Linked DNA regions of Homo sapiens: region 1 is linked to region 2. The links come from fine-mapping of genetic effects on gene expression. A gene starts in region 2. The other region holds a variant in brackets. All regions are shown on one strand. Distances are from middle to middle. Region 1 overlaps MAN2A1 (mannosidase alpha class 2A member 1). Region 2 holds the start of MAN2A1 (mannosidase alpha class 2A member 1).

Region 1 (12,840 bases), 110 kb after region 2:
CTAAAGTAAATGGGAAGGGTGTTCAGTGACCTTAAACCAGGGCATTTAATTGGTGGCTACCTAATAATTATAAAGAAATGCATTATGTTTTATTGGTATTTCTTTAAACAGCAAGGTATCTGTTTTTAATAACCAAATATTTGTTGGTCATTTCCTAGTTGACCCAGGCACACAGTGGTTATTTTTTGTAATATAACCTTTAACTGTCAGAATCAAGATATTTAGTACCTCCTCTTGCCAATTATAGGATAAAACAATAATTTCAAAGAGTAATTCATTATTTCAACTAAATATATTTTATTAAAATTATTTAAAAATAAATGGAATGAATGTAAAAAGAATTTATAGTTGCTAGTAAAGTTGAGACTTTTTGTTAAGCATAGACTAAAGTCTTAGTTGTCTAAATTTCTTTAGTAAGTAGAGACATAAGGTGTATACAGCTTATTCCTTAGAACGAGATAATAAGTTTTTTTATTTTAGTAATACTAATGTTCTCTGTAACACGGCAGAAGCCTTAGGAGCTTTCAGATTGCCAGGTCATAGTTAGGATGAAAGGATAATGACACTGAAAGAAATATTTCTTATAAAATTACAAAATGTTTTCTTTGTCTTAAAATAAGTTATGTTTTGATGCATTTGGGGTTATATGCCTGTTCCTTAAATATTGTGTTCCTAGTAAACTCTGGCATTAGTAAATCTATTTGGCTTTAGGCATAGTTCTCTCATCTATTAACTTTTCTTTCTTTTTATATTTTGGTGGAGGAAGATCTTTGTTTTTGCTGGTTATAAGAATAATATATGCTGATATAAGTGATTTGTGCCCCATCTCTGGGTGCTCTTATGCTGGGTGCAGTGAGGCAGGGCTGGAACCATAATAGGTCAGAAGAAAAGATGTTCCCTTTAGTTTATCTCCTTCCTTCACTGTCTTTGCCTTAGCAAACAATAATTGATAATTTTGCCTTTCTAATGCCAGAAGAAGAAAGTTAGGAAATGTAGTATATTAATGAAAGAGAAAAATATTTTTAAGCTTTCATATTGAGGAGTTTTAACTACAGGTAAACATAAATGGAATTTCGGGGGCTATTAGTAAAATGATTGCTTTTTGATATTTCTTTTTAAATAGTTTTTATTTAAATAGTATAGGGTTTATCTTCCTATTACTTCTTTACAGTTCTTTTTTTATCAAATATTGACTTCCTATTTCTGTAGGTTGGTAAATTAGGAATACTTCTGATTGGCAGATTCTTATTTGTTTTTATGCTTATTATCCATTTTATAGGTTAGGGCTTCTTAGATTTTAGGTTTTAAAATCTCTATTTTACTTGTTAGCTGCAAATTATTTTAGTTACTGATCTGTCAGTAAAAATAGATGAACAATGAAGGAATGATAGTGGCCTTTAAAATGGAAGAATTTGATTGTTTTATTTAGCAGGTACTGAAAGTAAAATAATTGCCCTTTTCAGTTTTTAAATTGGAAGCCTTAGAGGTGTGGCTGTGAGTCTTTGTCATATTCTTCATGAGTCTTCTTTAATGTTGTAAGGGTTGGCTTTTTTTTTAGTTATAAACACAGTTCCTGTTTGAGTAACAAATTATCTCTCTAAATAAACCATGCATTCTCGATGGGGGAGATATTTTTTCCAAGAGAGTGAAAATTGGTTTTTGGGGATTTGAAGAAAATCTTACTCTTTTTAATATATAAAGCACAGATATAGTACGTAACAGGTAAACAGTTTGTGTGTGGCATTAAAATTGTATGTGGGTGATTAGTAAATGTCTAAAAAGAGTCCTTAGGGAGGTGATAATGTAAAAAAGATTGAGAAATACTAACTTAAACCCATAGAATATAAATAATACACGTAAATTTGATCATGCTGTTGGCAATATTAGTTATAGCAATAAACCTAACATAACTTTGTAAGTATTTAAAAAGTAGTCCAAGATCTGTTTAAAGTGACATTAGTACATGTTGATATGCCTAATTTAGTTCACACAGTTATGTGAGCTATATCATGTGTGGATTCGTAGTTTTTGTGTAGAAAACAGATACTTCAGAATATCAACTAAGATATAAAAAGAAAAGCCCTCCCATAACGCATTGCCATTGGCTTGTTTAATGGTTCTCCCTGGATGACCTCCCAGCACCAATAATTTAAGTTCCTCTGATTTTCTCCATACATGCTTTCCTTTTGGATGCCAGTCTTGATTAAAAGTATTGTTATCTTTTTAGTTATCTAGGTTCTGAAATCCCAGAACCTACTTTGACCTCTACCTTTTATTATTCCTTAAATTTCATCACTTGGAGAGTCTTTTTTTTCTCATCTGTGAAATGCATCTTCTCTTTTCCTGTTACTTTTTGGTTCTAAGCCATACTTCGTGCCTGAATTACTTCAACAGCTTCTTACCCTTTTGTCTTCAATTTCCTATGCCCCTTATTTATTACATGAAGTTATCAGAGGAATCTAGCCAAAAACAGAGCTCTGAGAAAGTCACTTCTAAATTCAGCATTCTCTAGGTACTTCTTCTTACCTATTGAGGAAAGTCTGACCTGATGGTCAAATGTTTTAGTAGACTATTGCCTAACAAACTAATCTAAAACTTAATGTCTTAAATACAATTTATTATATTTCCCACGTTTTTGTAGAACTGCTGGTCAGTTCTTGCTTGGGGTCTCTCATACCATTGCAGGCAATTGGAGATTGGGACTGGAGTTCCCCAAAGATTTGACTGGGCTCAGTGTGCAGGAGGGCTCATATACATTGCTGAAAGTTAGTGCTCCCTGTTGGCTGAGGGTTCAGTTGGAGCTGTTAGCTGCCAGTACTTACACATGGCCTCTCCATATGACTTGGGCTTCTCTAACCATAGTGGCTGGTTCCAAGGGGGAGTGTTTTAAGATTGAAAGTCTCAAAAGTGAGTTTTCTGGGTAGAAACAGCAAGACTTCTTAAGACCTAGCTTTGGAAGTCCTAGAAGGCCATTTTCATTACATTCTATTGGTCAAGGAAGTCATTAAGGTTAGCCAAGATTCAAGGGGAGGGAATTACTCTCCATTTCCTGATGTGAGGAGCATGTATAGGAAGCAGTGGGAATGATGGTAGTCATCTTCGGAGACTAGCTATCACAGTTCACCTATAGGCTACCTCAGTTCACATACCTTTCATGTACGGAGTAACCTCACCCACCTCCCAAGATGTCCAAAGTCTCATCCCATTATGCTATTAGCCCCAAATTTCTACCTAGATCAGGCCAAAATGGGTCACTCATATGGCTGGCAGTTAATGCTGGCTTGTTTCTTCCAGTATAATTATTTAAAGTTAATCACAGTAGATTGTAAACTCCTTGAGAGTAGGAATTATTTCTTTATTTCTAGCATCATGCCTGTGGTATTATATGCAACATAGCAAGAGTAATTACAGATTCATTGAAATACATTTAAATATTGACTGAAGAGAATATTAAGCTTCAGACACCAGATATGCATAGAAGAACATGGTTCACATTCTATGTGAAAATGTGGTATCCTGGTATATATTCTCCTCAGGTGGTTCTTTGGTCTCATATTTGGAGGTTGGGTGCCAGAGTGCTTCTAAGTAAACTTTAAGACCGTTACAAATAAAGATAAACCATAATTCAATAAAGCTTGGAATTTGTATAACTGTCCATTTAAGATTTTAGTTTTATACCATGAGACCTGAAAAATTTCAGATTGCATCTCAGCATCATTGCATTCTTACAGAGTTAACTTCGTTAAGATTGGATATTGGGTGAATGTTCAGAATGGATGGATATAAAAGATAGTTCCAAATAGCTGAATGAATTGGCTTTATCAGATTGGTTTTTATATGTAAGACTTATTGTTATGATCAACATAGCCTGATTCTACATTTTGTATTTTTAATATTGTTATTGTAAACAATTCTTCTGGCACTAATTATCTATTAGTTTAATGGGATTCAAGGCTAGCTTTTTTCTTTTCTTATGTTATCAATATATTTTTATACCAAGTAAGAATGTGTCTTAGAAAATATCTAATATCTCTACCAGTTGTTTACACATAAGTTTTAAATGAAGAAGCCAAACTCGCAACCTTATTTTTATTGTTTGGAAATGGAATTTCTAGGAAAATAGAATTCTGACCACTCAGATTGTGGCAGCATTATTTGATAGAGGCATTTGGAGCTTAACGGCGGAAGTGAGATTCCATGACTTGAACCAAGGCGGCTCTAGTCTGAGAAGTGAGTCTGGTGAAAGAGCTGTTAGTGTACAGAGGGAGCGCACTTTGTGCTCAACTGTGGAGGAGATGGAAGTGTTAGCTGCGATAATTAGTCCAGGAACTGTCCTTAATAGCTCATGGATTATGATGGTTTAAGCTTAAACCTTGACACGTACTAGAAAACTAGTATATAGAAATGTCTTTCCATTAGTTAACAGAAAAATGAGTGTAAAAAGTCAGTAAGATTAAAGGTTTTCTTTCTTGAAACTGGTCGGCTATATTTTTTAATTATCCTAAAGAATTCAAGGCAATAATAGAATACAGGATTTGACATCCTGGACCCTCTCCAGCTTCTGTTATTTTGAGAAAAGCTGAGATATTTTTACCTTTTAAATAAAGCTGTTTTGAACTTTTCTTTTGGTGAGGGAATTAGTAACTGATGGTCCTAGAGACTCTTAAACACATAAAAACTAAGCTATTCTGTATTCCAGTCTAGTTTAGTTGTATCTAGGCATTAATAGTACAGTGTATTTATGAATTTTATTGGATTTGAAGGATGAGTTTATAAACTGTCCTCTAGGATGCTTTTCTGTTTAAATATATATTGCTTGTAAAAGGTATTTGTATGTTTTCACCTATGTTCTGTCTCTGTTATGTGTTAACTCTGATTTTTTTCAAGGTATAGGTTGGCTAGTTCCCTGATTATCCAGAAGCACTTTTCATCTTGTCTGTAGTCTACTGGAGTGTTTTCAGAAAGGATGCTTTATCCAAAAGACTGAATGGAATATGTTATATTATGTAAATAACCAAAAGTTTCTTAAGGAATTCAAGGTACCTGCAAGATGCTACGTTAGTTAATTTTATGTTAAAAATTATTTGCATTGACTAGTGGTTGGTACTAGTGTTGGAGCAGTCATGGCTTGGTAGCAATACAAAATAATCTTATTTGGTGTTTGCCATTCCAATTCAGTCATCACAGGATTACATTTTGCCTAATTTTTCAAGAAAATATAAAGGTCTCTTGGGGAGGAAATGAGGAGAAAAGGCTCCACCTTTGTTCCAGTCCCTCCCACCCTTAGCATTTCTATGTATTTTATGACATCAGGAATGATGAGTATTAATTCCTGACATACTGTTTCAACCTCACATTGACTGAAATTAAATAACATCTATTATATTAAAAAAATAGTTGACACTTCCAGTTTACGTGATGGCTGACTAGAGACCATGAGACTGACTCTTAGTTTCCCATTAAAGCTCATATGAAAATGTAGAAGATGATGAACAGTTGTAGGAATACCAAAACCTTGGCTTGACAGTCAGTGTATTATCACAATCTAAGATGTCCACAAACTACAAAGCTGATAGAACTGGTCTGAAAAATGCAATTACTTGCTGATTAATGATAAGCAGTTAGAAATAAAAGCAACCTGCATGTCTTTTAAAGCAAGTATGGAGAATGATTCCTTTTCCTTTTCATAATGTCTACCCCCAAGGCTTTCAAATTCTGGTATTATATCAACTAGAAAAGTGAACAAATATTTTTCTATTGGAAGAGTGCTACTTTTGAGGCTATTAGGAAGTTAGGTAGCTTTTCTTTTTTTTCTCTTCTTCCTCCCTGCCTAAGGTCTCTGTTGACCATCTTCATTTAATTGACCAAGTAGATCAACTGACACTCTTCATTCCTTTTCAGTGCCCATGGTAATGTGGCCTTGTAGCTAACAGGCTGTTAGCTAGCAGGCCAATGTACTTCCCTCCCTCCAGTCTTTCAGTTGTGTGATTATCATGAATCAGTTATTTATTCCTAAACAAGTTGTTGTTATTTTTTTCTCATAAACCATTTTATTACGCTGTTGAATTACATAAAAACCCTTTTTTATGAAGTTGAGGACTTTGGAAATATTCAGCAAAGGTGAGTCACTGATAAATGTTGGCGAGATGACTGCAAAAGATTTGGGAAGAAATCATAAAAATATAGAAGCCGGCTGCACTCAGATTTTCTTAACATTTTTGAGTTTAAGTTCTTGCTATACTTTAGAGAAACCTAAGCTTGGAACCACAGAAGATTATCACATGTTTGGTTATGCAGAAAATATGAAAACTCCAATTACTGGTTCCATAGTCAAAGGATTTGCATATTTTGAATATGATACATGTATATATTTCATGGTAAAGTAAAATATTAAGAATAACACATACATATCATAATGATCTTCTACTTTAACTTTTATTTTCAGCTCAACTTTAACTCTTTCTGTTAATAGATCTATTGCCAGCCTTGATCACATTGATGAAAGGGCTTCCACTGTGTCCATATTTTGCAATCAATTTGGAGACTAAATCTGCCAGAAATAAAGTAGGCAGGAACAAGGAAACTTAACGATAGATCATTGAGCTAGGAAAGTC[C/T]GCTCAAGGAAATTGCTGTTGGTGGTGGCATGGGCAAGAATACTGTGATATTCTTTGTTGAAGAAAGAAGCCTTCCCTTTGTTCAGAATCAGAGCTGGTATAGAAGACTGAATACCAATCAGGCACAGCCACCTTGGATATTAAACCTTTTGGAAACTTGCGATCAGGCTGGATCCATGCATGTGAGCCTATTATTCACCCACTCTTTTTCTCCATCACTGAATCCTCTTTACATCCTTCATGACATTATTAACAAACTGGCCATGTCATTTATTCCTTATTGTGTGTCTCACTTGGTAGACTAGCAGCTCCATGAGGGTAGAGAGCTTGTTTGGTTTTGCATCCCCTGGCAAATACCTGGCACACAGTAGGTGTTCAACAAATATTTGTCAAATAAACTAACTACGTTAGAGAAGGACTTCAGCTAATATCAAAATAAAAAGGACCAAGGGTAGTTTTAGCAAACACAGAGTCTAGGTAAATGTCTACTTCTTTGAGGATAAGTGATTGAAAGGTTGTCATAGGAGAGCTGTGAAAAAGCTCTACAGACTGATTAAAAAATAGGGTGCAGCATGAAGACTCAGAAGTGTAGCTTACTTATTAAAATGATTTATTACAGAGACCAGATGAAAATTTTTTTAAAAAAAGAGGACCTGGAACTCTCAAAAAGTTTTGAGTTATAATCTCTGAGAAATATGAAACAAGGTGAAACACTGAAACAAAAAGATGACAAAAAATGAAAATGAAAATATTTGGAAGAGGAGAGGAGTGAGATAAGGAGAGATTGTTGGAGGGGCAATAACAGACCATCTTCACTAGTGATGCTGAAGAGTAAAGCTGACACTGAAAGAGGGTATGGATGTGAAAAAAAAGTCCATGAGATACTTTTTTAAGAATGTAGACAAAAGGAAGACAAATGCCAACAATGAGAAGGAAGATGATGATCGGTATGGAGGACAAGATTCCAACAAAAGAATTAAAAAACTTTAGGAAAAAATACAGCAGAGGCAATGATCAAAGATATAATTGATGAAAAGTTTTCTGAGCTGAAAAGGCCTCCCTTTATAGATGAAGAGGGATAAGTGCTGGGTAATAAAAATGAAAAAAGAGCCACCCCGAGTACACCATGGTAACTTAGTTCAACTAAAAGGAAAAAGGACATATTAAAAAAGTGCCCAGGCAGAAAGACTATATTGTATAATATAGAACAAACGCTAGACTGACTTAGACAGGAAGACTATGAAGTTTTGAAATCATTTTATACTCAAAGTTATCTTTCATATGTGAAGGTAGTAGAGAGACATTTTCAGATATGAAAACACTTATACCACAGGCACACTTCCCATATTTTTAAAAAGAAATTTTAAAAATTTCTTGATGAGGTCAGTTCAGCTGACTGATAGATGAATTAAAATTAGCAATTAAAAATGAAGAATTAAAAAGGCATTGGAAACAATTAGACGTAGTGAAATCTAAATCATTATTGTCAATTTTATTGTCAAACTAAAGGTAGAAGTGTCCATTTAGTTTTGATAGAATTTAACAGCACCATGGATCTGCAGCTTCAGGTTATATTAATGCCTGAAATAGGTGGAGAGGCAGGAGCATATAGGAGATCCTAAATAATAGTTTTTCTTCAAGAAGATTTAAAAAATACCAACTTCTGGTGAGAGTGATATTTCGTATTCCATTGCCTTCACTTACTATCAGTGTACTGTTAACTCCTCAAACATCTGTCTCTGCTGAGAAAAGTCTCCTAAGTTCTAGACCCACTGGCCAAGTGGATAGCTCTCTTGGGATGGCCCATTAGCAGCTCCATTTCACCGTGTTTAAAACGGAACTCCTCTTCCCTGCTTGAACCTGTTCTGTGGTCCCAAGCTCTTTCAATTTTAGAGTGACCAGATATGACAGTTTTTTCACTATTAGCCTCTTTCACTCTCAAAATTAGTTTGGACAATAAATTATGGGGCTACCCTGATCATCTTGTCTTTTTTACTTTCAACTCGTATCCAAACACATGCTAGACCTTTTCATTCTGTGTTTTGTTTGTTTGTTTTGTTTTGTTTTGTTTTGTTTTTGAGATGGAGTATCGCTCTGTCGCCCAGGCTGGAGTGCAGTGGCACAATCTCGGCTTACTGCAAGCTCCGCCTCCCAGGTTCACACCATTCTCCTGCCTCAGCCTCCTGAGTAGCTGGGACTACAGGCACCCGCCACCACACTGGGCCAATTTTTTTTGTTGTTGTTGTATTTTTAGTAGAGACTGGGTTTCACCGTGTTAGTCAGGATGGTCTCTATCTCCTGACCTCATGATCCGCCCACCTCAGCCTCCAAAAGTGCTGGGATTACAGGTGTGAGCCATCGCACCCAGCCTCATTCTGTTTTTTAAATGTGTCTCAAATTTGTCCTCTTCATCTTCAATGCTACTACCCTGCTTCAGACTGCTACTGTCCCTCCACTGGGTGATGGTAATAACCCTGTGACAGATGTCCCTGCCTCACACATTTGTTGGCGGAGTTTAATACGGTTATGTGTATGAACTTCATAGTATGGGACCTAGCGCTTAGCAGGCACTTAACTAATATTAGCAATGATGTAACTTAGCTCAAAACCCTTCTTTTTTCCATTACCCTAAGGATAAACTCTAGACTCTTTAACGTGGCTTGTGTGCCTGTATTTTTGTCTCTCGCATCATCTCTTGCATCAGCTCAGTCTGCACTATGTGCTCCAGCCCCACAATGACTCTATTCAGAACACAAAAATTCAGAGAACTATCAATTCTTGGACACTCCATTTTTTGTTATATTACCTCTACATCTTTACTACCTGGGGGGTTAAAAAAAACAAAAAAGCAGGCCAGGCGCAGTGGCTCATGCCTGTAATCCCAGCACTTTGGGAGGCCAAGGCGGGCAGATCACCTGAGGTCAGGAGTTTGAGACCAGCCTGACCAATATGGAGAAACCCCATCTCTACTAAAAATACAAAATTAGCTGCGCATGGTGGCGCATGCCTGGAATCCCAGCTACTTGGGAGGCTAAAGCAGGAGAATCACTTGAACCCATGAGGTGGAGGTTGTGGTGAGCCGAGGTTGCACCATGGCACTCCAGCCTAGGCAACAAGAGCAAAACTCCGTCTCAAAAAAAAAAAAAAGCGAAAGAACCAAATCACAACAAAAAATCTCCAATCTTGGCCGGGCATGGTGACTTACCCTATAATCCCAGCACTTTGGGAGGCCGAGGTGGGTGGATCCCCTGAGGTCAGGAGTTTGAGACCAGCCTGGCCAACATGGTGAAACCCTACCTCTACAGAAAATACAAAAATTAGCCGGGAGTGGTAGCATGCACCTGTAATCCCTGCTACTTGGGAGACTGAGGCAGGAGAATTGCTTGAACCGGGGAGGTGGAGGTTACAGTGAGTCAAGATTGCGCCACTGCACTCCAGCCAGGGCAACAGAGTGAGACTGTTGTCTCAAAAAAAAAAAAAAAAAACAACCTCAGACTTCACCTCTAGATGCACCCGAATGTGCACACACACAGACATGCACATGCACACATACACCATTTGCCTGATAAATTTCTGATTGTCTTTTAGAACTCAGCTTAGATGTTACATCTTACATCCTCTGGAAACTTGGTTGAGATCCTTGAAGCTAGGTAGTGTTCTCATATGACTCCATGGGACTGTGTTTACCCACTAAATGCCTGCGTAATAGTCCTCTGAAGAGACTTGCTATAAACCTCTTGCCGGTATGGGTTGGTCTTGTTCATTATTCCAAAATGGTGCCTAGCAAATCTTTAAGGAAAATGACCTACTGCCAGTAGCATTTGAGCTAGGAATTGCACTAGAGGGAATCTGTCCTGCAGAAATAATCAGATATGGAGGTGGAGAGAACTCTGGAAAAGGACGTGCATTTCAGCTTTGTTTATCATGTGAACAAATATTTTAAAAGACTTAAATGTTTATCAGTAATGAATTGGTCAAATATTCTACATGTGTAAGTTATATAGAAAGATTTTTAAAAGATGCCTAAATTAGCATTTCTTTTTGTAATAGAGAACATAGGGCTGGTAAATTCTGGGATTTTAACTTAAGTTTTTATGAAATTTGTGTTTTCAAGTTTTATGGAGTAAATGAAGATGACTTGTTTGAATTGAAGTTGTGAATGGTTGAGTGAAATATGGAAGAAGTGCTTGGTACATAGGAGGTGTTTGCTAAACTAATAACTAAAAATTGGAGGTGGAGAGAGTGAAAATTATGAGAAAAAGTCATGTAATCATTAGGCAATTAAATAATTTATCCATAGTGATGAACCCTTATGGGAAAAGTTTTGATTTAGAATCATCTCGCATTCATTGTTTTCTTCTTTAAAGGTGAAGTTTTTTGTACTTGTTGGCTTTCCTTTGTTACCCAATATGACTTCTTGTATGTATAGTGTTTCATTTTGTATTGCACTGAACTGCATACAACAGAAACCTTATTACAATGGCTTCTGAAGAAAGCCTTTTATTATTCTTATGGACAAGTTTCAAGGCAGGTAGTTAGGGCTCATGATGGGTTCCATGGTGCCGTCAAAAGTCCAGGCTGCTTTTACCTGTTAGCTCTACCACTGTTAGCCTGTGGCTCTTGTTCTTGTGAACTCAGGATGGTTCCTGCTTCTACATACAGTACATCTGTGTTTCGTCCAGAAAGAGGGATGAGCAAAGGAGGAAGGTCATGGCAGTTGGGATAAACTGGGGACTCAGTAACTTTGTCAGAATTTCCACATACTGGAATTCTAATTACATGTCATTGTCCAGAACTGTGCCACATGTCTGCATCTAGCATGGGGAAGCAGGTTTTTTTTGTTGTTCATTTTGATTTTGTTTTTTAAGCTATGACTGTTGCCATCCTAAATAAAATTGGCTTTCTATCAATAAAGGAGAAAGAGATAATGGTTGTTGGGTAGGAAGGAGCAGCATCTGCAAATTAGATTCATTAACTAGATCAAAAAGCAGCTACCAGATTTTCTGTCAGCTACTCTTCCTTGCCCACTTCGGCTCAGGGACTGGAGTTGTGTTCTGAATACTCTAGGAGCAGGTCTATACTGAATAAATCAGTAATGGTTGTTAGAAATGTCTTTAAAACATGTTCTCAAGACTTATCAGTTAGGAAAATCATACCAAACACAATGAAACTGAAAAATTTTCTACATATTCTAAAACCAAAACATAATTAGATGCTGCAAAATTAAAAATTTAAAGAGATAAAGAAAAGCTCATAAAATAAGAGCATATATATACAATTGAGATTTGGGTTATTTAAATATTAAGAAAATAGAATATTTATTCTTAAACATTTCCTGTTTATTTGTAGGACTATGTGGGCCTATGTTAAAATATAGTTCCTTATTCTTTGATTCATACATTCATTCATTCAGTGACAAATTTACTTTGTATTTCTGTCTTGGGCAGCACTGTACTGGTATGTGTTCATATTTTCTTGCCTCTTTCATTTCTTCTTGATTCTTTCTTGCTCAGAACCTACACAGGCAAGGTCTCTTTTCTAAGTGACCTGTGATTTATACTGTACTGTGTAGACTGCCCATAAGACAAACCCTCAGTGCCTTACCTGAAATCTTCAGGGGTAGATGTATGTGAGGGTTCAGAATTCTTTTTAATTTTAGGAAAGTACTGTGCATATGTGGCATATTATTGCACAGTCTCCTTTGAAATTTCTGAATGTTCCGATCAAAAAATAAAGATTCTATAAAGCTTCATGTCAGTTCTGTTTAGATTTACTACCAAATGAGTTATAAAAAAGCTTTTGATTTTTTCAGAGCTTTTTGGATTTCACAGTTTAGAGATTGTAGTTCTGTAGAGTATTGGTTTGGGCGAATTATGAAATTGCTTAAAATAATTAGCAAGCTTCCTAAAAAGATGCATTATAGCAGAAACCATTTTGATTCTTCTAAATGGCATTGATTGTTACTATCATCCATACTTGGGTGCCTCAGCTTTTCTTTGTTCTGATTCCCATCATTTCAAAAATCTGTTCAAAAATGTCTGTCTCTTAAGAAATCTTTGCTAGCTGAGCAGTGCTTTTCACCCTTTTGTACCACATTCTCTAAACATGTAGGTATTTAGGTGTTGACTTTTTTTTTCTTTGCGAGAATTCATTCCTTGACTTTACTGAGTGTTGTAGCTTCCTAATTATACTTCAAGCTTCCCTCATCATCTGAATTCATTTTTTC
Region 2 (12,840 bases):
TGGATGATGAGAACGCTTAAGATCTATCCTCTTAGCAAATTTTCAGTACACAATACAGTATCATTAACCATAGTCACCATGCTGTTTGTTAGCTCTCCAGAATTTATTCATCTAATAATTGAAGGTTTATACCCTTAGACCAAAATCCCCCCATTTCCTCCACTTCCCAGCCTCTGGCAACCACCATACAACTTTCTATTTCTATGAATTTGACTTCTTTAGATTCCACATACCAGTATAAGTGAGATCATGAGGTATTTGTCTTCCTGAGTCTGGCTTATGTCACTTAACATAATGTTCCTCAGGTTCATCTAAGTTGTTGTACATGATAGGATTTCCTTCCTTTTTAAAAGCTGAATAGTATTCCATTGTTTATATATACCACATTTTCTTTATTCATTTGTCTGTTGATGGACACTTAGGTTTATTCCATATCTTGGCTATTGTGAATAATTCTGCAATGAAAATGGGAGTGCAGCTATCTAATGAGATAACACCTCACATCTCTTGGAATGGCTATTGTCAGCTTTTGGAGACCTAAAGACTCATATGTTAGTAACAATAGGAAAACATACAGCTTTTTCATAAGTGATAGTAAAATCTTATTTCAGTAAAGTAAATAAGTGATCAAGATCATCCAAATTAATTTTCTGAAAAAGAGAAGTTGCTTTGGATATATACACAGGAGTGGGATTGCTGGATAATGTGGTAGTTCTATTTTTAAGTTTTTAAGAACTTCATACTGTTTTCCACAATGGCCTACCAGTCTATAATCCTATAAATAGTGCACAAGGGTTCCTTTTCTCCATTTCTTGGTCAACTCTTATTATTATTTGACATGTTTCTAGTAGCCATCCTAACAGGTATGAGGTAATATCTCATTGTGGCTTTCATTTACATTTGCCTGATGATTAGAAAACCTTTTTTTTTTTTTTTATATGGAGTCTTGCTCTGTCACCCAAGCTGGAGTGCAGTGGTGCAACCTCTGCTCACTGCAACTTCTGCTTCCTGGTTTCAAGCGATTCTCCTGCCTCAGCCTCCACAGTAGGTGGGATTATAGGCACCTCCCACTACACATGGCTAATTTTTGTATTTTTAATAGAGAACGGATTTCACCAGTGATCTGCCCGCCTCAGCCTCTCAAAGTGCTGGAAGTACAGGCAGAAGCCACAGTGCCCGACCTAGAGCACCTTTTAATATTAGCTGTGGGCCATTTGTATGTCTTCTTTGAAAAAATGTTTATCCAGGTGACTTGTTCATTTTAAGATTGGGCTATTTATTTATTTACTATTGAATTATGTGGGTTCATTATATATTTTGGATATTAGTCCCTTAACAAATATGTGGTTTGCAAATATTAGGTTGGTGCAAAAGTAATTGCGGTTTTTTTGCCATTACCTTTAAAAAATCACAGTTGCCATTACCTGCAAAAACCGCAAATACTTTTGCACCTACCTAGTATTTTCTATCAGCTGGGTGGTTGCCTTCTGTATTTGTTTGCTAGGGATGGCATAACAAAATACTAAGGACTGGCTAACTTAGACAACAGAAATTTATTTTCTCAGTCTGGAGGCTAGAAGTCCAAGATCAAAGTGTCAGCGGGTTTGGTTTCTCCTGAGGCCTCTCTCCTTGGCTTGCAGATGGCTGCCATCCCAATCTGTCCTCACATGGTCTTTTCTCTGTGTGCATGTATCCCTGGTCTCTCTCTCTTCTTATAAGGACACCAGTCAGATTGGATTAGGGCCTTACTAACAGCTTCATTTTAACTTAATCGTCTTTTTAACTTAATCTCCTCTTTAAAGACCTTATCTCTAAATACTATTACACTCTGAGGTACTGGGGGTTGGGACTTCAACACGTGTATTTTAAAGAGAAACATTCAGCCTATACCACTTTCCTTCCATGGCCACGTGATTGGTATGACCAGTCCCTGCAACAATCACTTTGCCCCTTTTCCCCCAAATCCTAACCATTGCTAACCCACACCATCTGTTTGGATTCATCTCTCAGTGACTCAGTGGTTTTGTCCTCATATAGCTTTACCATCCTAGAACATATCCCACATCCGAAGTGACCACTTTAGAGTTGTCATCTCATACTCAAGATCATTATCTCCTTCTCTCTGGTTCAAATATATATTATTACAGCACCTAAAATACTTACTAATTCCTGCTCATCAGGTCCAATCAGCATAATGTTGTCAATGTAGTGGACCAGTGTGATATTTGATGGTATGTCAAGACAATCAATATCTCTGTGGACTATATTAAGGTGAATTGACATACCCCCAAGACAATACTGTGAAGGTATCCTGTTGGCCCTAACATGAGAAAGCCAACTGCTTCTGGTGGTTTTACAAACAGATATAGAGAAAACAGCATTAGCCACATCAGTAGCTATATACCAAGTGCCAAGTGCTATGTTGATTTGTTTCAGTAAAAATAATACATTTGAGACAGCAGCAGCAATTGGAATCACTTCCTGATTAAGTTTATGAGTCCACAGTTATTCTACTAGATGTATCCTGTACTGGTGAATTAAATGAGAGTAAGTATCACCACTCCTACTCCTTTTAAGACTTTTATGATAGCACTGATTCCTGCAATTCCTGCCAGCCATGCAGTGTTGTGTTTAGTGAGCTAAGTGGAAGCTCTAAGAGCTCCTGGAGCTTCCATTTAGCTCTCCCTAATAATAGCCCTCATTCTATGGCTAAATCCCAATGTGGGGATCCTGTCAGTTGCTAAGTATGTCTGTTACAATTATTAGATTGGTGCAAAAGTAATTGCTGTTTTTGCCATTAAAATTATGCTGTTAATACATATTCCAATTACACTGGGAAAGTAGCCACATAGTTGGTATGTGGACTAACAGTGGTGATTTCTGTCCCCAGGAATTAGCATCAACTCAGAGCCAGTGTTTAGTAAACCTCAAATGATCTGTGTATTTCCTTTTCGCCAATGCAGTTTCACTAGTAAATGGCCACATGTCGTTTTGGGGAAAGCTTGAAAGAATTTGCCATGTGTACTGTAGCCAAGGTGCAAGATCCTTCTTAAAGGGAACACAGATTCTCTTTCAACCAAGGGACTATGGGTCTGTGAATTGACTTAGGTCTGAGAACTGAGAGACTGTGACTATCCACTGTGGTGACTCAAGTCAGGTTTTGGCTACCTGACTTAGATCTTTTTACCTGTTATAAATATCAAGCAATAATCTATTTCAACTGCCTATCTATTTTGTTCTCAGAGCAGCTCCGTAAGCCAAGGCAGTCTGATTTCCTGCTGCCCTTTAAGGTACATGTGCGCCCACCTTGTCTTTGTTGGTTATGTGCTGCCTGGTTTCTGCTATTCTGAGATCGTGTCATCCCCATTGAAATCAGGGAGCCCATCTAGATAGTGGCATCCTCTATAGTCAAGGTTTTCAAGCAAGGCTAGTCTCTTTAGACACTGGAGGGCAACCTACTTCCACTGATAAGAGAAAGAGTTGGCGTGTTTAAGATTGTCGGTTTCATCTGGGTCCAACCCATTTCAAGTATTGAGATTCTATTATTAAAAAATAACACCATTTTACACGAAAAACTCAGAATATGTGTGAATTTAATAGCAGTTATAATTCAGTAACATGAAAATTAAAATTTTGTTTGATTCTCAGCATAATTCTTGTTGCTACAATAAACCAGAGCTTTTGGAATTCTGCAGAATATCTCTGGTTCTCATACCATAACTCTGAGAGTTAAAAAACCTGTGCTTGTCATTTCTCTTTATAACCACTCAAAAGCACGCAAAAGAATCCATCCCACACCAGTCTTTCTAGTCATCTTTATAACCATAGCAGTCAAGTGTAGCAGCCACTTGGGGCCCCAAGGCACAGGCTTCAGTTGGCACTTCATCAGGATCAACCACAGGTAATTGCTTAATTGAGATGCCCAGCATGTCATGAATTACATTTCCCTTTGGCAAGGAGCTAAAGCTCAAAACCTCAATCAAACTGACCTTTAATCCCATCTTTGCAGGTCTATTTCTTGGGACTACTCCCGGGACAGGGAAGGCTTAATAAAAAGAATTGTTAACTATAATAGAGGATTAGAGTAATGAAGGATTCACTAGCAAGAAGAGAACTTTAAAGAATATAGCAACAGCAGCTATAAGGAGCTAACCTTATAACTAACTCTTGGGTTGAGAGACAGAGTGCCCAATGAAGAACCTCCCCAATTCCTCCCAGGGCTAAGATCTAGACGTTTTTGGAGAGGGCATGACCTGGCTCACTGAATGGCAGAGAAGTCACCATTGGGCTACGTCTGCAAAGCTTGTGGAAGATGTGCCCTCTGCAACTTGCTGCAAATGCCTCTAGGGTGCCAGGGAAGTTATTCATGGGGTAGTGTCTCACCTCCTCTACAAAGCTCCTAGAGTTGGGCATGTGAGAGGAAATTGCTAGTTACTGAGCACTATAGGACCTTGGCAGTGGAGAAAGCCAGGTATGCTGCAAAAGCTTATCAATACACAGAAATCAGGAAGCAAAATCCTTTTTTTCTGTAATGTCTCTTCAGCGCCCTCTGCTGATAAAGCTTCAGTCCCAGAAGGCAAACGAAAAACTGTTTAAAAGGCTCAGATCCGTTTTTACAGTGCAGTCAAAAAGGGCGAATTTGGAGCTGAGAGGCAATAAATCAATAACTGGCAGAAGCATCACTTCTCAGATTACACTCATGGATTTCGTAGTCAGATGTTTCTACATGTGCCTGGACGGCCCTTTGTCAGTCTCCTTTCCCCCAGGTTTTAACAGGCTGTCACCAAAGGAGGAAATAGTGAGCCCGAAGAGAATGTGCAAGCCCTCTTCTCTTGCATTTCCTCCAGCCCGTCACCAAGTACTCTTCCAGGCACGCCAGGCCCGAGTGTCCTAGGATAGGAAACCTGAGCAACAAAGGGAAGTGGGGTGTAAGCTCAACCCCTGTTGGACGTGGGGGTGCTGGCGCCTGAACGCCCCCGAAGGCCTCAACTCCCAGAAAGCTGCCTGCCAGGTCACAAGAGCCCTGTGAGGTCTTCCTATCGCCGGGACACTGGGAGGCAGGCGCGGGGCGGGTCCGCCGGGCGACGCGCTGTGATTGGGCGCCGTGGGGCCCGCCCCCTCATCTCGGAGCGTCGGGAGGGGGCGGGGCCAGCCGCCCGCTCGGCTCAGGCGCTGCGGGCGCCTATTGACCCAGCGGCTGCTGCGCCGCCGCTGTCTCCTCCTGCTCGTGGCGGGCGGTGCTGGAGCGCCAAGTGGCGCTGGAGAACCGGCGCTTCCTTTCGCCGCTTCCGCCGCCATCTCCGCGTTTGTGGGGCGGGAAAGAGGGAGGGGGCTAGCGGCTGCAGCTGGAGCGGGCTTCTCTCCGGGGACGGTCCTTTCCTCCCTGCTCTCCTTTTCCTTCTTTCCGCGTTGCCGCCGCCCGCCCCCTGCGCCTCCCCGCGGAGCCTGGGTCCGGGAGGGGGAAGGTAGGGGCGGCGGGGGGCGGGAGAGTCTGGCGAGCGGACGCTAGCTCTGAGGAAACTCATCAATCCGTGAGCCCCGGAGTCCGGGGTGCACATCGGCCCAGCCGCAGCGTCGGCGGCGGCGGCGGCAGCAGCACGAAGGGGCTCAGTCGGGGTAGGCGGGGGCGGTGCCGGTGCCGCGGGGGCGGGCCCGACCGTCCCGCCCAGAAGTTGTAGGGCTTGGCTCCTCGCGATCTTGTTCCTTTCCCCTCCGCTTCTCTGACCTAGCTGCGCGGCCCCGGCCCGGGAGCTGCCGAACCCGCGCCTCCCCTGGGTGAGGAGGACACGCCTGCCCTCGTCGAGAAAACTTTTCCTGCCGACTCAGTTGGGGCGGCGGTGGCAGGAAGTGCGGGCAGCGACCTCTCCTCCGCCTGCCCCGCGCGCCCTGCCGGAGGTCGGCGCTGAGCTTGCGATCAAGTTTGTGGGGGCCCCCCTTCCCAGTTGCCGGCGAGTCTCGCCTCGAGAGGGGCGCCCGACCCCGGGGAGGGCGGCAGGCCAGGGCGAAGGCCAAGGGCGTGTGGTGGCGCCGGAGACTAGGTGCGGAGCAAGGCGGGGACTCGCACCCGCATCCGAGAGCGCGGAGGTCGCGCAGCCCGGGAGAAGGGAGCCTCCGGCGGCTGCTTCCTAGAGTCCACAGTGCGCTGTCTCCTTTGGCTGAGGAGAGTGTCCTGGCCCCGAGTCTATCGAGGAAAATGAAGTTAAGCCGCCAGTTCACCGTGTTCGGCAGTGCGATCTTCTGTGTGGTGATTTTCTCGCTCTACCTGATGCTGGACCGGGGTCACTTAGACTACCCCAGGAACCCGCGCCGCGAGGGCTCCTTCCCTCAGGTAAGCACCTGGGAAGGGGGCGCGGGGCTCCGAGGGGCCAGGCGTGCGGGCCCCTGGTTAGCGGCTGCTACCCAACCTCTTCCTCCCGCCGCGGCCCCACACCCGTGCTGGGCGAGGCCAGGGGCTCTGTAGCTCTCGGACGGCAATGATCACCTCCTGGGAGCCACCTCGCCCGGGCGCGCCAAGTTAACAAAGTGCTGGGCGGCGTGCGGCGGCGGCGGCGGCATCATCCCGCTCAGGAAAGTGGCCATGTTCCGGCATTCGCACCCGGCCTGTTGGGGTGGCTTCGGGCACCTGCTGGCGGGGGAACGGGCGCGGCGTGAGGCACCCCCCGCCAGCCCGGGGCCCGCGTATCCCGGTGGGGTCGTTCTCGGCTCTCACAGGGTTAAGCCGCCCGCACCAGCCCAGAGCCCCTGAGCGCACGGAGTCGCGGAAATGGATCAAACCGAACCCACCTAGGCTTTTTTTTCTTTTTCTTCCCCGCTGCCTCTGAAGAGAGAGAAGTTTATTTCGTGTTGCGGCCCTTTTAGATGTGAATCTCTAGGTTGATTTTAGTGTCGTCATTCTTCAGCTATTACATCTGGTTTGTTTGTGGCAGACAGGGGGAACCGAGTGGGGAAGCGCGTGTTATACTCCGGCCGAAAGCTGTGGGGCGCTCAGTCCTGCGTCCAGTGGTTAAATTGGTAAATGAGTTGGGAAGACGACCCATCCAAAGTCTTATTTAAAGTTACCAAAAATAAGCAAAGCGGACACAGTCTGTTCCCTTTGGAAGGGTATCCACCGCGCGGCATGTGCGAGTTCAGTTTCAAGTTACTTGCCAATATAACCCGTGCACTTCAGAAATTGCGGTGAAACTGGGTATTGTGTAGTGTGTAGTGTGCTCTGTAACGAATGAACCTGAAGAACTCAAACCCTGACAGGGCAATCTAACTATTCCTACTTGACTTACGAGAAAGAGAAGCCTAGACGTGAAGTTGATATATATTTTTTTCTCTTTTGTGATAACTTAAATGACCAAAGAATATCCTTGCCATTTTTTTTGTGTTATGCTAGAGCAAATGGCTTGAATTTAATTGAGATTAAAGTAAAAACTTTACTGGAATTATTGTGAAAGTGAAAAAAGACCCTTTTATGGATGCTGTCATCAATACAGAGCACTCAACATGTTTTGTCGGTGAGAGGTTTTAAAAATCTTGCTGCAGAGAGATGTATCAAAATTTTAAAAGCCTCTGCTTCCCCTAGGTAGTATGACAGAGAAAATAGAAACAAGCACTGAGGGCATCTTTAAATCTTGAGCTCAGAGCTTGTCCAGTGCTTCTTGATGAGGTTGAAGAAAACAGTTGGAAAAAGGTAAGGAGTTTTAAGCTTAGCTTGATATGTTGTGTAATTTTGGGGTTGAAATTACTGTAATTTTTTTCCCTCCAGTAACCTCATTTTCAGATTTTCCTCCATTACAGGAAAATCATAAAAAGTGATATTTTTACTTAAAGTGTTTTCTAAAATAATGTCCTTTGGCTTTGGCTTGATGATCACTTGAAAATGGTTTATGCAAACATCTGGACCTGGGTTTTCTGGCAACCTTGACATTTTCTCTGTTCAGAATCTAAAGACATGAGTGACTCATTCAGTTACTGAGAAATCTTAGGCAAAGCTAATTCCAGTATTGTAATATCTATCCTTAGTCCTCAATGAGAGGCTGAAGTTCTGCTTTAAGCGTAAAGCATTTGATGAAAGGTCAAAGTGGCTGCTGGAGGGGAAGGCTGTTGGTACTCAACTGGGAGGTGGAACATTTTGCATTTAAGATTGCCTTTCTCAGATTTTCTGTACTGGATTTTCACTGCAGAAAGAAGGTATTCTTTAAGTGCTTGGACGGCCACTGAATCCTCAAGCAGATAGACATTCTAAGACCCCTCTGTAAGCTTAACCGTTATGTGTGTGACATTAGCCTTCGTATCTTACAGGGTAAAACTTAAGTGGCGAGGGGACTGAGGCACTGAGGCACGGAGAGATTAATTAGCTTGCCCAAGATCACACAGCTGCAAGCTGAGATTTGAACAGGTAGCCTTTGTAGCCCAGGCTCCCAGCCACTGAGTTGTCTTGCCTCTTAGGAATCTGTTGCCTACTGTTTAGGCTGCCATTTGCTTATGGAAAGATCTGATGTAAAATATAGAGCAGTGATCCTCAACCTTTTTGGTACCAGGGACTGGTTTCCTGGAAGACAGTTTTTCCACAGACAGGGGTGGGGATGGGGGGAGTCGGGGGTTTCGGGGGATGGTTTGGGGATGAAGCTGTTCCACCTCAGATCATCAGGCGTTAGATTCTCATAAGGACCATGCAGCCTAGATCCCTGGCATGCGCAGTTCACAATAAGGTTCGTGCTCCTATGAGAATCTAATGCTGCTGCTGATCTGACAGGAGGTGGAGCTCAGGCGGTAATGCTTGCTGACCTGCTATGCCACTCACCTCCTGCTGTGTGGCCTGGTTCCTAACAGGTCCATGGCCCTGGGGTTGGTTGCCCCCTGTATAGAGCATGTTGCTCTCTGGTACCTTAGCTTATGACTAAAGGAACTTTTATTTTGAAGCCATAATGAATATGGTCCTTTTTCTGAAACATTTACTGCTAGAGATTTATACCCTTCCCAGAATGTCTTTGAGCTCATTTCAGAGCTAAACATTATAATGAAAACCATTGTGTAGTCCAGCATCCAGAACTTGAGTTGATTCTTTTTTTTTTCACTGCTTCTAACTTATTCTTAATAATACCAAACATAGCAAAAGGAGGTTGCAATACATTTGTTTGGCAAGTTTGGGTATTGAATTCTTGAGTTTTAGTAGAGCCAAGCAGGTCGGTCACTATGTGTCATTTTTTGGTATCTAGTAGAACGGTTTATTTAGATAGGTATTGGGTTCCTCTAAATTGCCCATTTAGTTGGTTTCAGTTGATACGGAACCTTCACTAGGCTTTAGGTCTATCTTGTAAACAAGATATTTTTAAAGACCATCCTAGATTGAGAGCAATCTATTTGTTGTTTTTTTGGAGAGCGGGGGTTTGTTCTTTTTCTCTTCTCTCACAACTCTGGTGTTTTCCACCATTTGGCTGGACTCTGGGGCAAGAGTGGGCTGGCCGAGGGTGCTCCAGTTTCTCTCACCCCGGAACAGCTGCCTGCCTCTAAGATATTCTTTGGAAGTCTATCCTGAAGCACTCCGAAGCCTTGCTTCTGCTTCTGGGAGGAATTCCTTGGAGGACTAGAGGCAACAGGGGGCCTAATCTGTTGAAACTTGTGTGTATATTTCAGGGTTAATAAATCTCAGCTAAGAAAATTAATAAAAATTCCACTGTGAATGAGAGGTTGGTCAGAGACTAATGTCTTGAAAATGCTTTATGATAACTTGGAAGAATTTGAGCAGATGGAAAGGAGAAACTTTGTTAAGGTCTCCCTGAAATTAGTCATCACTTCTTACAAGCAGATTTCACAAGGTGCTTACTATCTATGGTGTGTATAATAGGGTTGTCTTATTAATTAGTCTGATGTTTGGATCTGGAGAAGTAAATTAATGAGTCAGGTTTTGTATAACAAATGATCACTTTTTAAGTAATTAGTGTAGCATATGACCGTAGAGATTAATATTAACTCTTAAAATATGGAAATTGAGACTCCGATGGAAAATGTGAAAGTGAAGTTAAAACTTTATCTTTTTGCCTATGTAACATTTATCAAGTGAGAAAGTGAGAATGCCTTTAAATAAGCATTTGATTGAAAGCCATTAGAAGGTGAGAACTTGTATACCTTTTTTTTTTTTTCTTTGGGATAGGGTTTTGCTCTGTCATCCAGGCTGGAGTGCAGTGATGGAATCACAGCTTACTGCAGTGGCCTTGAATTCTTGGGCCCAAGCCATTCTCCCACCTCAGCCTTCTGAGTAGCTGGGACTACAGGTGTGTATGCCACTGTGCCCAGCCAGTTTTAAAATTTTTATTTTGTGGAGACGGGGTCTTACTATGTTGACCAACTGGTTTCAAATTCTTGGCCTTAAGCTATTCTCCTGCCTCAGCCTTCCAAAGTGCTGGGATTATAGGTGTGATTCACTGCTCCCAGTTGCCTTTTGTGTTTTTTTTTTTTAACTTACTGTAATACACATACAGAAATGTGCTTACATACTTTACATCAGTAGTACTTAAGAGTCCAGCATAGTAGATGTTATTAATGAAAGTTGACTCATGGCAATACATATAACTAGGACTTTGATTCCCCAGTTTTTTTCTTGCTTTCATAAATCTGTAAATCTTACTTAAGAATGACATATAAGGAAAATATGATCTCCTTCCCCTTCCTTGAGTGCAGTCTATTTATAAACAATAGCACTTGGTGCTGGGGTTTGTTCACGTTTGTATGAGGGAGATTGTCTTATTTTCTGGGATATAATGCGGAGATCTGTGCTTTTTGGGAAGTGATGGAACGTTGATAGTGCATCCAGCATTTAGGAATGCAAGAACAAACATTAGAGCCTTTTGAGGATGGTGTCCTCTAACTCCTCTTCAGTCCAACAGCCCTGTGGGTCTCTTCCTGATCAGCATTTTTCACTAAGACCCAAACTTATTTCCTGTAAACCAACTGGGCCAGATACTCATGACTGTCTGTGGTCTGAAGATAGTAGTTTATGTTTTGTTTTTTGTTTTTTTTAAATTGAATTGGGTGTGTTGTTCCCAGATGAACACTGTTATCAGGGCCTAAACAAATATTTTTGTCAGGGAGATGTCACAATTGTATTATTGGAAGGGGATTTTCTCTCTTAGCTTTTAATTTGCATTAAGAGGTGTCTGGGCTGTGGGCAAAATAGTGGCTAAAATGACCACTTTTATTTGTTTTTGAGTCAGCTATTGCTTTTTGTGATAACTGAAAACTTTAGTCTTTTTTGAAGGACTGAAGTGTTGAGAGTTTCCTGGAATGAGTGGTTCACTAGCTGTTGCTGATCACCTGGTTTATTCTTAGCTTTTTTTGCATTCAGGAGTCTTAGTTTTCCCTTGTTCTCCAACTTCTGTAATCTTTAAGAAAATGAAAGGATATTTAGCAGCTCTGATGACCTGTATTTGCTGGATTGTAAAGGCCTTATTGCATTTTTTATCCCTTCTGTCTTGGTAAAAGTTCCTGATAGCAGCAGCTTTTATAAAAGTTTGAGCAGAACTAAGGCAAGGAGGAAGAACTCTAAAATAGTGATTTTTGCTTCTCAGTTGTTATTAGTAGGTTAATCAGGAGAGGAAGTAGGACATTTTAACTAAAATGGGTTTCTGTTTCAGTTATCAAGCCAAGCTGCTATTTTTAAGTTTGAAACCATTTTTAAATTCAGACAGGTTTGAGGATTAATTGTACTGAAATGGAGCTCACATCTAGTGCTTTAGTGAGTATAGCTAAATGTGCCTATAATAGGGAGGAAGTAAATCATTTGGTTTGATGAACTCTGTCACTTGAGGTCATATCATAGCTTTTCTGAAAGAGTGCCCTGTTTAAGGTAATTATATTTTATGCAGACAGGTGGATAGTAGGTATCTAGTATATATCTTTTTTTTTTTTGAGACGGAGTCTCACTATGTTGGCAGACTGGAGTGCAGTGGTGCAATCTCAGCTCACTGCAATCTCCACCTCCCGGGTTCAAGCGATTCTCCTGCCTCAGCCTCCCGAGTAGCTGGGATTACAGGCACAAGCCACCATGCCCAGCTAATTTTTGTATTTTTAGTAGAGACGGGGTTTCACCATGTTGGCCAGGATGGTCTCGATCTCCTGATCTCGTGATCTGCCCGCCTTGACCTCCCAACATGTTGGGATTACAGGCGTGAGCCTCTGCGCCTGGTTGGTATCTCTTAAATATCTTAATGTTAAATTTCTAAATCTAACATACTGTTTTCTAAAGAAGAGAAAGTACTTTAGTTTAAAACTGGACATACTCTACCATTTGCTGCCTCTATCCAGGCTTTGTAACCTCTTTGCTGTTGACATTTTGGGCCAGAGAATTCTTTCGTGTTAAGGGCTGTCCTGTGCGTTGTAGGGTGTCTAGCAGCATCCTTGCTGTCTACCCGATATCTGCCAACATCACTGTTCTCTCTCTGTACCCCTAGTTGTAGGAACCAACAATGTCTCCAGACACTGCTCTCAATATCCTCTGGGAGTGGGAATCATCCCTGTTGAAACTGTGTTGGCTGTGGCCTCTTCTTTATACCCAGTACATGTCGTTAGCACTTCTGTGTTTTAGGAAGGATTGATCAAAAGGCCGAAGCTCAAAAAGCCAATTAGCATTTTTTGATGGGTGAACTCTATTCTTTCTCAGGATGCCTGAAATTCACTTACACATTTAGGATTCTAGATTGTAGTATGTTACAAAAAATTTCAAGGATAGATTATGTTCATAGGTAAGTTGAAGGAAAAAATGGAAGATTCTTATAATGGAACGTAAAAAAATTCTTTTCCAATTGGACGTGTGTATTCTGAGAAAAACATTAGGGTCAGGTCATTGTAAATAGA

What was found. PIP is the estimated chance that this variant, and not a neighbour inherited with it, causes the effect.
Region 1: its variant is the best candidate, but not a certain one, in a credible set for the expression of MAN2A1 in whole blood (TOPMed, PIP 0.84).

What each region holds. Positions count from the first base shown.
Region 1 is chr5:109,790,008-109,802,847 of GRCh38, forward strand. The region is part of intron 12 of MAN2A1 (mannosidase alpha class 2A member 1); the gene reads left to right. Among named protein-coding and RNA genes, the nearest start is that of LINC01848, 87 kb to the right of the region's middle. The variant C/T (reference allele first, on the strand shown) is at 6,615.
Region 2 is chr5:109,684,225-109,697,064 of GRCh38, forward strand. MAN2A1 (mannosidase alpha class 2A member 1) reads left to right here and starts at 5,703. Exons shown (of 22, transcript NM_002372.4): 1 at 5,703-6,328. The coding sequence starts at 6,194. It overlaps MAN2A1-DT (MAN2A1 divergent transcript), which reads right to left and starts at 6,875. Exons shown (of 1, transcript NR_186543.1): 1 at 3,577-6,875. RefSeq lists enhancers at 4,359-5,027, 4,787-4,886 and silencers at 4,997-5,286, 5,297-5,816, 5,847-6,056, 6,467-6,566.